Linked DNA regions of Homo sapiens. The protein of the gene in region 1 purifies or fractionates together with the protein of each later gene. This does not show direct contact. Each region holds a gene or a part of one and is shown on either strand. Other genes may lie near its edges. The genes, in order: ATP2A1 and NPTN.

Region 1 (7,270 bases):
ACCACAAGGGACCCATCCAGGAGCAGCCCCAACTTCATCTGTTATTCCTTTGTTTCTAGAAGCACACTTGTTTTCAGCAGATGATGAGTCCTGACTTAGGATTTGGGAAATGTGGCTACTGCACCTATAGGGAAAGCCTTTCCTTGCCCAGATGAACCCGGCCACTTCTAGGACTGTCACTCCCAGTTATTGCTATTGATACTTGCTGAACGTCTCCATTAAGCACTTCTCTCTGGGGAATTATATTCCCCACATTTCTCTCTTTCTCTCTTTTTTTGTATATGCAAAATGCTCATTGCTACTTTATTTAATATAACAAAAAAGCGGGCCAGACACAGAGACTCACGCCTATAGTCCCAGCATTCTGGGAGGCTGAGGTGGGAGGATCACTTGAGCCCAGGAGTTTAAGACCGGCCTGGGCAACATAGTGAGACCCGCATCTCTACAAAAAAAAACGAAAACAAAAACAAAGAAAGAAAGAAAAAAAAAAGAAAAAAATTAGTTGGGTGTGGTGGTGCAAAACTGTACTCTAGCTACTAGGAAGGCTAAGGTGTGAGGACTGCTGGAGCCCAGGAGGTCAAGGCTGCAGCAAGCAGTGATTGCACCACTGCACTCCAGCCTGGGCAACAGAGGGAGACCCTGTCTCCAAAATAAACAAACTGAAAGCAACTTAAATACCTGTCAATAGAGGACTAATTTTTAAAATTTATAAATGATAATGCAAACATAAATTTTTATTTATTTATTTTTGAGATGGGGTCTTGGCCTGTCGCCCAGGCTGGAGTGCAATGGCTATTCATAGGTGTGATCACAGCGCACTGCAGCCTTGAACTCCTGGGCTCAAACCATCCTCCTGCCTCAGCCTTCCAAGTAGATGAAGCTACAGGCATGCACCACTTTTCCTGGCTACTGATGTTTTGTTCTTTTTATTTTTGTTTTATTTTTTGGAGAAGTATCCATGATACATTTGGTGAAAAAGGCTTTCATTCTTTTTGTTTGTTTGTTTGTTTGTTTGTTTGTCTGTCTGTTTTGAGAGTCTTGCGGTGTCACACATTCTGGAGTACAGTGGCATGATCTCAGCTCACCACAACCTCCGCCTCCTGGGTTCAAGCAATTCTCCTGCCTCAGCCTCCCTAGTAGCTGGGATTACAGATGCAAGCCACAATGCCCAGCTAACTTTCTGTATTTTTAGTAGAGACGAGTTTTTTTTTTTGAGACGGAGTCTCTCTGCTTTGCCCAGGCTGAAGTGCAGTGGGGCCATCTCGGCTCACTGCAACCTCCGCCTCCTGGGTTCAAGCAATTCTCTTGCCTCGGCCTCCTGAATAGCTGAGATTACAGGCATGTGCCACAACGCCCAACTAATTTTTGTATTTTTAGTAGAGATGGGGTTTCCCCATGTTGGTCAGGCTGGTCTTGAACTCTTGACCTCGTGATCTGCCTGCCTCGGCCTCCCAAAGTGCTGGGATTACAGGCGTGAGCCACTGCGCCTGGCCTTCATTTTTTTTTTTTTTTTTTTTGAGACAGAGTTTTGCTCTTGTTGCCCAGGCTGGAGTGCAATGGTGTGATCCTGGGTTCAAGTGATTGTCCTGCCTCAGCCTCCCGAGTAGCTAGAATTACAGGCACGTGCCACCACGCCTGGCTGATTTTGTATTTTTAGTAGAGACGGGGTTTCTCCATGTTGGTTAAGCTGGTCTACTACTAAAAAATACAAAAATTAGCTGGACATGGTGGCGTGTGCCTGTAATCCCAGCTACTTGGGGGGCTGAGGCAGGAGAATGGCTTGAACCTGGGAGGCAGAGGTGGTAGTGAGCCAAGACTGCACCACTGCCCTCCAGCCTAAGCAACAGAGCAAGACTCCATCTCAATATAAATAAATAAAAATTAATTCAAATTAAATAATATACAGAGTACCTCCAATGCTCCACAGCAATTGCTCAGTTGCACCAATTGTACAGTGCAGATCACATAACATTTCTATCATTACTAAAAGTTATAGGGCCAGGTGTGGTGGTTCATGCCTGTAATCCCAATGCTTTAGGAGGCCAAGGCAAGAGGATTGCTTGAGGCCACGAGTGAGACCAGGCTGGACAACACAGGGAGACTCTATCTCTAAAACATTTTTTTAAAATTAGCCTGGAGTGGTGGCATACACCTGTGGTCCCAGCTACTCAGCTGGCTGGGAGGCTGAGGCAGGAGGATTGCCAGAGCCAAGGCTACAGTGGGCTATGATCACGTCATTGTACTTCAGCCTAGGAGACAGCGCAAGACTCTGTCTCTAAAGAAAAAAATAAGTAAATAAAAATAAATAAACAAACAATGAAAGTTTTTTTTTCTTTTTTCTGAGACGGAGTCTCGCTTTGTCGCCCAGGCTGGAGTACAATGGTGCGATCTTGGCTCACTGCAATCTCTGCCCAGCTAATTTTTGTATTTTTAGTAGAGACAGGGTTTCACCATGTTGGCCAGGCTGGTCTCGAACTCCTGACCTCAAGTGATTCACCCGCCTCAGCCTCCTGAAGTGCTGGGATTACAGGCATGAGCCACCGCGCCTGGCCAATAATGAAAGTTCTGTGGGACAGTGCCACAATAGGCCATCCTTTTCTTCTGTGCTTTAACCTAGGACCCTGAAGCACTGTGGCAACACTAGCCTTGGGATTTTCTCCTTTTGTGCTATAGGGACCAGACTTAGTGTTAGTCTCAGCCTTAGCTTGGGGTCTGCTCTGACCTCCAGATTCTTTTTGACCATTTTAAGAGGACTGGTCTCCCCTCCCTGTCTCCTCTCCAGGTGATCCGCCAGCTAATGAAGAAGGAATTCACCCTGGAGTTCTCCCGAGACAGAAAGTCCATGTCTGTCTATTGCTCCCCAGCCAAATCTTCCCGGGCTGCTGTGGGCAACAAGATGTTTGTCAAGGTCAGAAATCGGAATGTGCCTCAGCCCCCTCTTCTTCCTACTCCTAGCCACCTGTCACTGCCCTGGAAGGAAAGTGGTGGTCTCTGAATGCTGTTCTGGTCTCCTAGGGTGCCCCTGAGGGCGTCATCGACCGCTGTAACTATGTGCGAGTTGGCACCACCCGGGTGCCACTGACGGGGCCGGTGAAGGAAAAGATCATGGCGGTGATCAAGGAGTGGGGCACTGGCCGGGACACCCTGCGCTGCTTGGCCCTGGCCACCCGGGACACCCCCCCGAAGCGAGAGGAAATGGTCCTGGATGACTCTGCCAGGTTCCTGGAGTATGAGGTAAGCAGCTGGGAGCCTCCCACTGTCGTGGAGCTGGTGAAGGGCCGGGTCCCAGCCATCCACTCACAGCTCCACCACCCGGATCATTTCCTACCTCGTCAGTCAAGTTGATGGCTCCTTAGTACAGGCCATGGAATCACAGGACAGTAGAGTTTCAGAGAACCTTGGGAGGCCGGGTGCAGTGACTCACACCTGTAATCTCAGCACTTTGGGAAGCTGAGATGGGAAAAGCGCTTGAGCCCAGGAGTTCAAGACCAGCCTGGGCAATGAAGTGAGAACCCCATCTCTATTAAAAAAAAAATTTTTTTAATTACCTGGTTAAATTCATAGGGGTCTGGGTAAAAAGTAAAATACATTTTTAAAAATGTTAAAAGAAAAGAGATGAACTGGACATGGTGACACACACCTGTAGACCCAGCTACTGGGGAGCCTGAGGTGGGAGGATCACTTGAACCTAGGAGTTGGAGGCTGCAGTGAGCCATGATCCCACCACTGCACTCCAGCCTGCATGACAAGCAAGGCCCTGTCTCTAAAAACAAAAAACAAAAACACACACACACACACACAAAAGAGAGAAAGAATGAACCTTGGGAATCATCTAGCAAATGTGATCTGTGGTTGGTAACAAGGTGAGCCACTTGAACCAGAACAGGAGCCAATGCCACTCAGCACATAGGGGAGTTCAGCTGTTGTGTTTTCTGTAGCAAGACTGTCTCGAGACAGTTGATCTGTGTTCTGGCAAAGACTCCTTACTTCTACTAGACCAGCGCCAGAATGGCACCACAGTCCCTCCTTTCATTTTGTACAGAGGATTTCTTCTAAGTTGTGGGTCACGTAGTGGCACTGCCAAAAGCAGAAAGCAGTACCTCACTTCCAGTTCACGTTCTTTCTATGAAACACACATTTTGGCTGGGCATGGTGGCTCCCATCTGTAATCCCAGCATTTTGGGAGGCCAAGGCAGGCAGATCACAAGGTCAGGAGTTTGAGACCAGCCTGGCCAATATGGTGAAACTCCATCTCTACTAAAAATACAAAAATTAGCTGGGCTTGGTGGTGGGCACCTGTAATCCCAGCTACTCTGGAGGCTGAGGCAGGAGAATCGCTTGAACCTGGGAGGCGGAGGTTGCAGTGAGCAGAGATCGTGCCACTGCACTCCAGCCTGGGCAACAGAGCGAGACTCCATCCCCTGCGCCCGCCCCCCCCCCCCCGAAAAAGACACAATTTGGGGCCACGTGTCAGGGCTCACACCTATAATGCCAGCACTTTGGGAGGCCAAGCCTGGCAGATCACTTGAGGTTAGGAGTTTGAGACCAACCTGGCCAACATGGTAAAACCAAGTCTCTACTAAAATAAAAAAATTAGCCAGGCGTGGTGGTGCGCCCTTATAATCCCAGCTACTCAGGAGGCTGAGGCGGAGAATCGCTTCAACTTGGGAGGTGGAGGTTGCAGTGAGCTGAGATCATGCCATTGCCACTGCACTCCAGCGTGGGTGACAGAGCAAGAGTCCATCTCAAAAAACAAAACAAAAACAAAAACAAAAAAAAGGAAAGACACGATTTGGGCTGGGCGTGGTAGCTTATGCCTGTAATCGCAGCACATTGGGAGGCCGAGGCTGGAGGATCTGTTGAGCCCAGGAGTTTGAGACCAGCCTGGGCAACATAGCAAGATCCTTTCTCTACTAAAAATTAAAAAAAAAAAATTAGCTGGACATGTTGGTGCATGCCTGTAGTCCCAGCTACTTGGGAGGGTGAGGTAGGAGGATCGCTTGAGCCTGGTAGATTGAGGCTGCAGTGAGCTATGATCGCACCGTTGTACCACTGCACTCCAGCCTGGGTGACAGAGCAATACCCTGTCTCAAAAAAAAAAAGATACGATCTGACCCATGATGGGCCTGGCACCATCAGCACCTGCAGGTGCTTAGATGAATGAGATGTTTCCTGCCTCTGAGCTTCCAAGGCCCCACTGAGGTCTGACACCAGGCCCTGAGGCGGCAAGCCCAGGGTTCAGGCTTCCCACCCCTCCCCACCACTTCCTGACCTTTCACCCCATCCCCACCCCCCACCAGCTTCCTCCAGGGGAGTTTTCCAGATCCCCACCTGACCTGTGGCTCTCTGCTGTATCTCCCCAGACGGACCTGACATTCGTGGGTGTAGTGGGCATGCTGGACCCTCCGCGCAAGGAGGTCACGGGCTCCATCCAGCTGTGCCGTGACGCCGGGATCCGGGTGATCATGATCACTGGGGACAACAAGGGCACAGCCATTGCCATCTGCCGGCGAATTGGCATCTTTGGGGAGAACGAGGAGGTGGCCGATCGCGCCTACACGGGCCGAGAGTTCGACGACCTGCCCCTGGCTGAACAGCGGGAAGCCTGCCGACGTGCCTGCTGCTTCGCCCGTGTGGAGCCCTCGCACAAGTCCAAGATTGTGGAGTACCTGCAGTCCTACGATGAGATCACAGCCATGGTGAGAGGGCCCAGGCAGCTGCAGCCTTAGTGTCCACGGAGATGACCAGATGACTGTGCTGGGGAGAGTGGGGCCCAGGGCCAGAGGGCCCTGGTAAGATGCAAGAAGGGTGGGGATTCAGACCCCAAGGAAGAGTCTGAAGGAGGATTTGTGGGCTGGGCCTGGCACTTTGGGAGGCTGAGGTGGGCGGATCACTTGAGCAGGAGTTCGAGACCAGCCTGGGCAACATAGCAAGACCTCATCTCTACTAAAACAAAACTTTAAAAATAAATTTAGCCTCACAGTGGCACATATTTGTGGTCCTAGCTACTTGGGAGCCTGAGGTGGATCACTTGAGCACAGTTTGAGGGTGCAGAAAGTTATGACTGCACCACTGCACTTCAGCCTGGGCAATAGAGTGAGACCCTGTCTCAAAAAAAAAAAAAAAAAAAAAAGGTGGGCGGAGGGGCTCATGCCTGTAATCCCAGAACTTAAGGAGACTGAGGCAGGCAGATCACCTGAGGTCAAGAGTTTGAGACCAGCCTGGACAACATGGCAAGACCCCATCTCTACCAAAAAATACAAAAATTGGCCGTGCGTGGTGGCACATGCCTGTAGTCCCAGTTACTCAGGAGGCTGAGACAGAAGAACTGCTTGAACCTGGGAGGCGGAGGTTGCAGTGAGCTGAGATTGCGCCACTGCATTCCAGCCTGGGCGACAGAGTGAGACTCCGTCTCAAAAAAAAAAGTGTGCCGATCTTTGTTCTAAACTGAGTTTTTGGCCAAGTGTGGTGGCACATGCCTGTAATCCCAACACTTTGGGAGGCTGAGGCAGGAGGATTGCTTGAGCCCAGGAGTTCAAGACCAGCCTGGGCAACAGAGTGAGACCTCATCCCTAAAATAAAACCTTTTTTAAAAAGGAGGGATGTGTGAAGGTGCCCTAAGCCCACCTTCTCCTCCTCCCTCAGACAGGTGATGGCGTCAATGACGCCCCTGCCCTGAAGAAGGCTGAGATTGGCATTGCCATGGGATCTGGCACTGCCGTGGCCAAGACTGCCTCTGAGATGGTGCTGGCTGACGACAACTTCTCCACCATCGTAGCTGCTGTGGAGGAGGGCCGCGCCATCTACAACAACATGAAGCAGTTCATCCGCTACCTCATTTCCTCCAACGTGGGCGAGGTGGTCTGGTGAGCAGCTGGGTGGGCGTCCAGGAGGAAGCCGGGGTTAGGGTGGGGTGGCTGCAGGTCTGGGAGGCAGGACAGAGGTGTGACCACCTCCTTCCCACAGTATCTTCCTGACCGCTGCCCTGGGGCTGCCTGAGGCCCTGATCCCGGTGCAGCTGCTATGGGTGAACTTGGTGACCGACGGGCTCCCAGCCACAGCCCTGGGCTTCAACCCACCAGACCTGGACATCATGGACCGCCCCCCCCGGAGCCCCAAGGAGCCCCTCATCAGTGGCTGGCTCTTCTTCCGCTACATGGCAATCGGGGGTGAGCTGGAGGGGTTCCTCGATCCTCCCCACCCCTTGGGACTAACCCCCTCTCTGGGACACCAGCTCCCCCATGCAGGTGCTGAGAGGGTCTTCTTCCTT
Region 2 (7,270 bases), on another chromosome or scaffold:
GATGGTTATCTGATAGGTAAACACTTATGACCTCTTAACACTCCCAAGTTTGTGTCAAATATAATGTACCTCTTCGTTTATTCCAAAAGGAGTGTACGTATATATCTATATGAAAATTTGGGGAGAAGCACATGGGAAGGAAGCAGACAGGTAAGTTTGTCCTTCCTATGGAGTGCACAGGGGTTGAGGGGAACTGGCTAAAGAAGGAAAAGGCAGAGAAGAAGGAAACTCACCAAAGAACATTCAACTTTTTCTTTTGTTTAATGATTACTTCCAGGAAAGGAGAAGAAAAGCGGGCAGGGGTGGAAGCAGGATGGAGTTTGAGAGAAAGACAGAAAGAGACAGAGGAGAAAAACAGAATGGAAATACTGGAGCAAGGGCAGGGTGTGAAGATGGAGAGTGGAGCCTGGCCCACACTGGCTGTCAGGAAGGGAAGGAGAGAAGGCAAACATTGCCATCATTCCAGCATCTCAGATTTTTCACCCCAATGCAACAACAACGAAGTAAACGCTGCTTTCATTACAATACTCTCCCAAGAGACTAGAGCAAGGAGGTTTTACTTTGCACTTACCCTGCCGTCATCTCTTTTAAGGGTAGGATTCATTCACTGTCTATAATAACTTAGTTTAAAAGAGGTACTTTCCCTCTAGGAAGCTGTTCAGATTTGCTGGCCACAGATGTCTCCTATAACAAACTGGTCCCCCATTTGATTTCAGTAACCAAGAAAACTCTTACAAAAAAAGAGCTGCTTCCCTGGGCAGGTGTCTGCACTTATCCAACAGAACAATCCTAACCATTTCTCAAATCTAACCTACCACATGCACTGTGATAGCAACCTCATAAGCGCGGTGACTTCTTAGGGCAAAGACTAGACCTCTGCTGGGAACACGCTAGGCTGCTGCATCACTCTCACCAGTGGCAGCCAGCCTTGCCTTAAAATTTAAAAATCAGGTTCTGAAGTCCATCTCTGCCTTCTCTTACCTGACTTTTTAGCTTCTCAACCTTTCCAAAAGGCAGGCTGAGGAAGGTGGTATTGGCAAAGCAAAAGCATTCTGGGGGGATAAAAAGGCCCTTTTCAGGAATGAGGCATAACTGATCCCACAGAGCCAAAGCTGAAAACACACGAAAGACAGGCAACTCTTTCCCTTTACTCCCAGGTCTAAATAAAGGTGCACTCTTGCCTTGGGAGTCCTAATATGTAGCAGGAAAGAAATACCTGGAGAGAAAAAGCATTAGGAGTACATGAAATCCCAAAGAAAGCAGGTTCACTTCATAAAGTAGGAAAGTAAAACTCATGGGGACACTCCCAGGTTGCAGGAAACTAGAGATTCATTTGCAGAGGCCGTCTGCTCCCAGCCAACGTCCTTCCCACGCCTCTGCCCAGCTCACTGCTGAGTGCACATCTGGAGGGAGTCACCAGATATTGTCAGTGTCATCAACAAACCTCCTCACCAGCCACTCACTCTACTTACTGCAGGCAGAGAGATTTATAACTGCTGAGAAGAAAGGAAAAGATGGGGAAGGGGCTGTTGCTCTCAAACATGTCCTCCCAGAGAGTCTAAAGCCACTGGCATGCCTCTGGGGCCACATTCTTTCTGAGGGAGCACCAGATGTCACTTTGTATTCTCCACTGGACAGCCAGCTCTGTGGGGCAGGATACAGCACCACAGGTGCACAAACACAGGCCCCAGAACAGCTGGACTACAGCTGGCAACCCCACCATCACCCCGGGTAGGCTACCACTGAGCCCAGGGGCACACCCATCTGTCTAGTCTAGCCAGGGACAGACTAGTGGTGGTAACAGTCGGCCAATTAATTTCTGTACGCCGGTCATGTTATAGGGTGGGGATGGGGAGCCAGCTGGGAACCTGAAGTACTGCAGATACAAGTCTCCATCAGCAGCTTCCCCCTTCACAGGAAAAATCGATCACCAAAAATTTCCCAAGGCTTTTCTGACTCTAGGCATATCCAATAACCTAAGATTTCAGCTCTTGCTCTTTCCAGTGCTCAGTGGTGTGCTGTGGTTCTGCTGCTACCATCTCCTCCCTTCTCTGACCCTAGGCCAGCTTGAGGGCACAGCCTCGGGGCATGGACTCCATTTGTTCCGCCTTTGCTATCTCTGTCTTACACTAGATGGGTGGATACATCAGACTCTCCTTTGTCTGTGAGACACAGATGGAAAGCCACCCAGCAGAGAGCGCTGGAAACCTATCAAAGGGACCAACCAAGGAACCAAAAGCTGGCTTGTTCCAATGGCTTTTCTGAGAACAGTCTGACTGGGCTGGGGCAGTTACCTACAGGGGCTACACCAGGCAACCATGTGACAACCAGTTAGATACCTTAAATCTGCCTGAAAGGCCAGGTGGCCTGCCATCTTGGGGTGGCTTCTAGGCTTGACTTGGATTCTCCTCAAGCTCAATCTGCCTGATGATCTGTATTGAAGGAGGACAGAGCTGAACAAAGAGACTGACAGCTGCCCATTCACCACATGGGGCCTGAAAGGCAGATGGGACTAGGGTTTGGAAAACACCCAAACAGAGGGAGAGAGCTAAGGACAGCTCTAGATGGCTAATGCAAAAAAAATAAAAATAAAATAAAAATAAAAAATAAAAATAAAAAACTCTTACGGGTAGGGGGTTAGGAACTGGTATAAGAATTTTCCTTCTTTCCTTTAGGGATTGAATCCCAACATCCCTATAGTCCTCTTTGGGTACTTGGAAACCACCCGAAGGAACCAACCCCAGCAGTACAGCTATTTTGTAGGGATGCTCTTACCGTCAGGAACCTCATCTGGCCTCTTCCTCTTCTCATACACAACAATGATCACCACAAGGATGATAATTTCAGCCAGAATTCCCAAGAAAGGCCAGAGTGGGGCCAGGTGGCTCCGCACCCTGAGGACAGTGACAACAGAGGCGGAGCCAATGGCGTTGGTGGCATTACATTCATACTCGCCAGGGTCTTCCGTGATCTGCAGGTTCACAATGTTCAACTCAGTGTAATTTTCCTTGTTGATGATGAAGAAGCGGCCAGAGGTATTGACAATGTCCTGCAAAAAAGTGAGAATACACAAAGGTGAGAGTGAGTAACTGAGCTAATGTTCAAGAGAGGGTGACACTGCTCTCCGTTCTTTTTAGGCACCAGCCAGAATGAGGAAGCAGTGTCTAGGAACATTTCATTAATGATTTCCCTTCAGTATCAACAACAACAAATCAACTTCTGACAGAGCCAGGCAAGCCTCCCTTACCATCGGTCCTCCAGACTTCCCCGACTTCCACGAAGTGAGTGCAGGTCCTACTGCCTGGAGACTCAGAAAAGTCCAACAACCTAGTAAATGCTGCCTCCAACACCAGGTAAGAAACCACAGCAGAAAGAGGACGGCAGAAGGAGGGGTACAACCCCTACAGTCAGGCATGCCTCGGGGACCTCAGGCCTCTCTGATGACCTCAGAGTCAGCACACTGACTTCACACTTGGTGAGTTCTGAGGAAGTCTCCTTAAACTTCCTCCACAAACAATGCTAAGAACTCACTCCTAGTCAGACTGGGGGAAATTCATAACTTTCCTTTCATTTAAGGACTAGAGGTTAGAGGAAAGGTTATTCAATCAATCAACAAATATTTGTGGCTGGGCACAGAGGCTCATGCCTGTAATCTCAGCACTTTAGGAAGCTAAGGTGGGAGGATCGCTTGAGCCCAGGAGTTCAAGACTGGCCTTGGCAACAAACTGAGACCCCATCTCTACAAAAAATCAAAAATAAAATTAGCTGAGCATAGTGGTGTACACCTGTGGTCCCAGCTACACAGAAGGCTGAGGCAGGAGGATCACATGAGCCCAGGAGGTTGCTGCACTCCAGCCTGGTAGACAGATCAAGACCCTGTCTTAACACAAAACAAAACAAACAAATAAAAGAGAACAAATATTTACTAAAATATGCTGCATGCTTTATATCCTACTAAGGGCAGGTGGGAGTGAGAAGGTGAGATAGGGAGAAGACAGACCTAGAAATGAATAAGGAGCTTGGCCTCAAAAGGGAACCAGACATCCAAAAAGGGATGACTGATTTCAGGAATGTGTTAAGAAGCCCCAACAGAGCGTGTGTATAGAGTGCTGTAGGGCACAGTGAGTGGCCACTGCTGGAAAGAGTCAGGGAAAGCTTCACACATGAGCTAACATTTGCACTAGACTGTGGAGGAGGACAGCTGATCAAACAGGGAGGAGCAGTGCAGGCAGGGATTCGCATGGGTGTGAAGGCAGAGGTGCAAGAGTGCACAGGCAGAGGTCGGGACTCAGCGGGATGGCTCACTGCACTCAGCTCATGAGATCCCGGCAGGGAAAAAACAGACTCATGTGTCTTTACCCTGCAACAACTAAAGCACAATCAGAAATAGGAGAGAAAAAGGGGAATATTATCCTGGAAATGATTCTAGATATGGCATACAATCTTGTCAGCATTTGAGTGCAGGTACATCTGAAATGGGGAACTCGTAAGCTTTTAAAACAGCTAGTCTGTGATGCCTCAAGCTTCATCTTTCAGATTAAAACACATACTGCGTTAATTCCAACCTGCTTTGGCAAAAGCTCAAGGGCACTCCTTCCCAGTGACCAGCAGAGAGAAGTGGACATTTCCTCTCCAGTGCCTTAGAAAGTTCAGTGTCTTGTAAAAAAGACTCAGCATCTTCACCTCGGCAATCCTCATCCTGCTCCTCGTTAACGGGTCTCTGAAATCATCGCTGATGTTGGAGTCATTATCACAACTCAACATTTTATTATCAAGATGTCATGAAGTAGGAAGAATAATGGACTTGAAATTTAAAAAAACTAGATACAACTCTTGGTTTTGCCACTAATTTATCTTGGCTACTATGGAACCCTTCCAAAGAAGATGGATTAATGATCTTTAAGGTCCTTTTGGATTCTGAAGACTGATAATCAAAGAGGATCCATGGGATCAGAGGAACGCTTGACACGCTCTCTGACAGAAAAGGTAATGGGTCAACAATCATAATGAGAGAGAAAGTGAGGTTCTAAAGCTCTGACTCTCCAAACAACATCATGAATCATCCCACTGATCGGAAAAGATGTTCTCTTTGACATTTTCTGGGGCAAATACCGTCAGGTTCCCAATGTCTAAGGCTGCCAAGGCTGCCCTTGGGCCTCCTCAGGTTGCCCCGATTCCTTATCAGTATGTTCTGTGTTGCAGGAATGTACTAGTAATTGCCCTCAGTACCTTGGGCCTCCTCAGGTTGCCCCAATTCCTTATCAGTATGTTCTGTGTTGCAGGAATGTACTAATAATTGCCCTCAGTACCTTGTTTCCTACTAAAAAAACAAGGCAGGTTCTCTAAGACCACTTCAAAAACAGTATTTTCTTCAGGATAAATGGACGAGAATTAGGCTCGGTTCTTTCAGTGTCCTATCCTGAAGGCAAGTGATATGGTTTGGATTTTGTCTTCACCCCAATTTCATGGTGAATTATAATCCCCAGTGTTGGAGGAGGGGCCTTGTGGGAGGTGACAGGATCATGGGGGCGGATATCCCCTTTGCTGTTCTCCTGACAGTGAATTCTCATGAGACCCGGTTGTTTAAAAGTGTGTAGCATCTCCCTCCTTCACTCTCTTCCTCCTCTCCAGCCACCTAGGACCTGCCTGCTTCCCCTTCACCTTCCACCATGATTCTAAGTTTCTCTACTTACAGGGATCACTTAAGAAGAAATAAACAGCAACTGCAGTCTAAAAAATAGGTAAGTTTCAAGGATCAAAGAAGCCTGAGGGGGAGGCTAATTCTTTGGATTTAGCTTTATCTTAACTATATTACCTGTCAATGCCTCACCTTCAGTTACAGTAATCTGAAAGCAATAAAACTCAAAGCAGGCCAGATGTCACTCTGTTGTCTAAGATAGGAAAGATCATCTTTCCTGTGTTTCCTGAGGCCTCCCCGGCAATGCTTCCTGTAAAGCCTGTGGAATCATGAGCCAATTAAACCTTTTTTCTTTATAAATTACCCAGTCTCTGGAAGTTCTTTAGAGCAAAGTGAGAATGGACTAATACAGTGAGCAATCTAATCTCTTACCAGAGGGACAGCTTTAACAAATCACGTACAGGGATTTTTGTGCTGGAAGAGACTGTCAATGACCTCTTGATTCATGCTGTAAACCGTGACTCTAGAAAGGGTGACCCTCGCCATGCACACATCCGAGGATACAGCTACTACAGTAACTGACCCACGTGTCTGGACCTCTGCAGGGAAAACTCCAGCAACCAGAGACCCGGGCCTGCCTCCTACTCACCATGGGCATCCCGTTCTCCTTCTTGCGCCATATCCAGTCTGGGTGGGGGTAGCCAACTGACTTGCAATACATAGTGGCATCCTGCCCTTCATTCTTGTTCTCACTCCGTTTATGGCCAGTGATGTCAGGAGCGGCTGTGAGAAAGCGTTAGACGCAGTTACCACGGAAGTCTACTCCAAACAGGATACAAAGGCCCCACCTTCTGGCTCAGAGCCCTGCTTGTAATGTAGTCAGTCTTTATGCTTACTGTCATACTCAGCTTTGATGAAGAGCATTTCAGGTCAGAATAGGGTAAAGGGACCAAACCCATCCTCTACCCCCCACCCGCTAAAGATGCCCAGGCAGATACCAGGGTTACTAATATATGAGGCTCTACTAATGTAGGTGATTCTCCAACCTACTGGAAAAGGATGCAGGTCCAACTGCCCTCAATTAAGCCTACCTTTAAAGAAAATGCAAACAAACACTATTATCTCTTCTATCGGCCCAAGTTTTTTCTTAAAACACCTGCATGAACAACAGTTATGCATCCTGTCAAATATCACACATTCCCTTAAGGAAATGAGATTCTGAGATAAAACAACTACAATCAAGTCCTATTACAAGGTATGTAAAAACAATGAATGCTTGGAGAAGCTACTCAATAAGTAACAATGACCAAGGCTCTCCCAGGAAAGAGGGAATCCAGAAACTGGTCTTCACAAGGAGGAAGAAAGGAATGAACAGGAAATTCAACCAGTGTCCCAAGAGATTTTTTTTTTAATTGAATGACTGATTGAGATGGGGTCTTATTCTATCGTCCAGGCTGGAGCATAGTGGCATGATCGCTGCTCACTGTAGCCTCAAGCTCCTGGGCTTAAGTGATCCTCAGCTCCCGAGTAACTAGAACTACAGGCACATGCCACTACACCTGGTTAATTTTTAAATTTCTTGTATAGACGGGGTCTTACTATATTGCCCAGGCTGGTCCTGAACTCCTGACC

Evidence for each region.
Region 2: the proteins of ATP2A1 (region 1) and NPTN purify together in Homo sapiens (affinity purification with mass spectrometry; 2 studies listed by BioGRID and IntAct, with this or other methods). This does not show direct contact.

The regions. Positions count from the first base shown.
Region 1 is NC_000016.10:28,895,218-28,902,487, forward strand, and holds part of ATP2A1 (sarcoplasmic/endoplasmic reticulum calcium ATPase 1), read left to right. Parts: intron 1-2,782; coding exon 2,783-2,908; intron 2,909-3,015; coding exon 3,016-3,234; intron 3,235-5,363; coding exon 5,364-5,699; intron 5,700-6,645; coding exon 6,646-6,866; intron 6,867-6,966; coding exon 6,967-7,169; intron 7,170-7,270. UniProt on the Homo sapiens protein: Key regulator of striated muscle performance by acting as the major Ca(2+) ATPase responsible for the reuptake of cytosolic Ca(2+) into the sarcoplasmic reticulum.
Region 2 is NC_000015.10:73,567,375-73,574,644, forward strand, and holds part of NPTN (neuroplastin isoform b precursor), read right to left. Parts: intron 6,422-7,270; coding exon 6,288-6,421; intron 3,050-6,287; coding exon 2,776-3,049; intron 2,433-2,775; coding exon of another isoform or gene 2,416-2,432; exon of another isoform or gene 2,340-2,415; intron 2,170-2,339; exon of another isoform or gene 1-2,169. UniProt on the Homo sapiens protein: Probable homophilic and heterophilic cell adhesion molecule involved in long term potentiation at hippocampal excitatory synapses through activation of p38MAPK. May also regulate neurite outgrowth by activating the FGFR1 signaling pathway.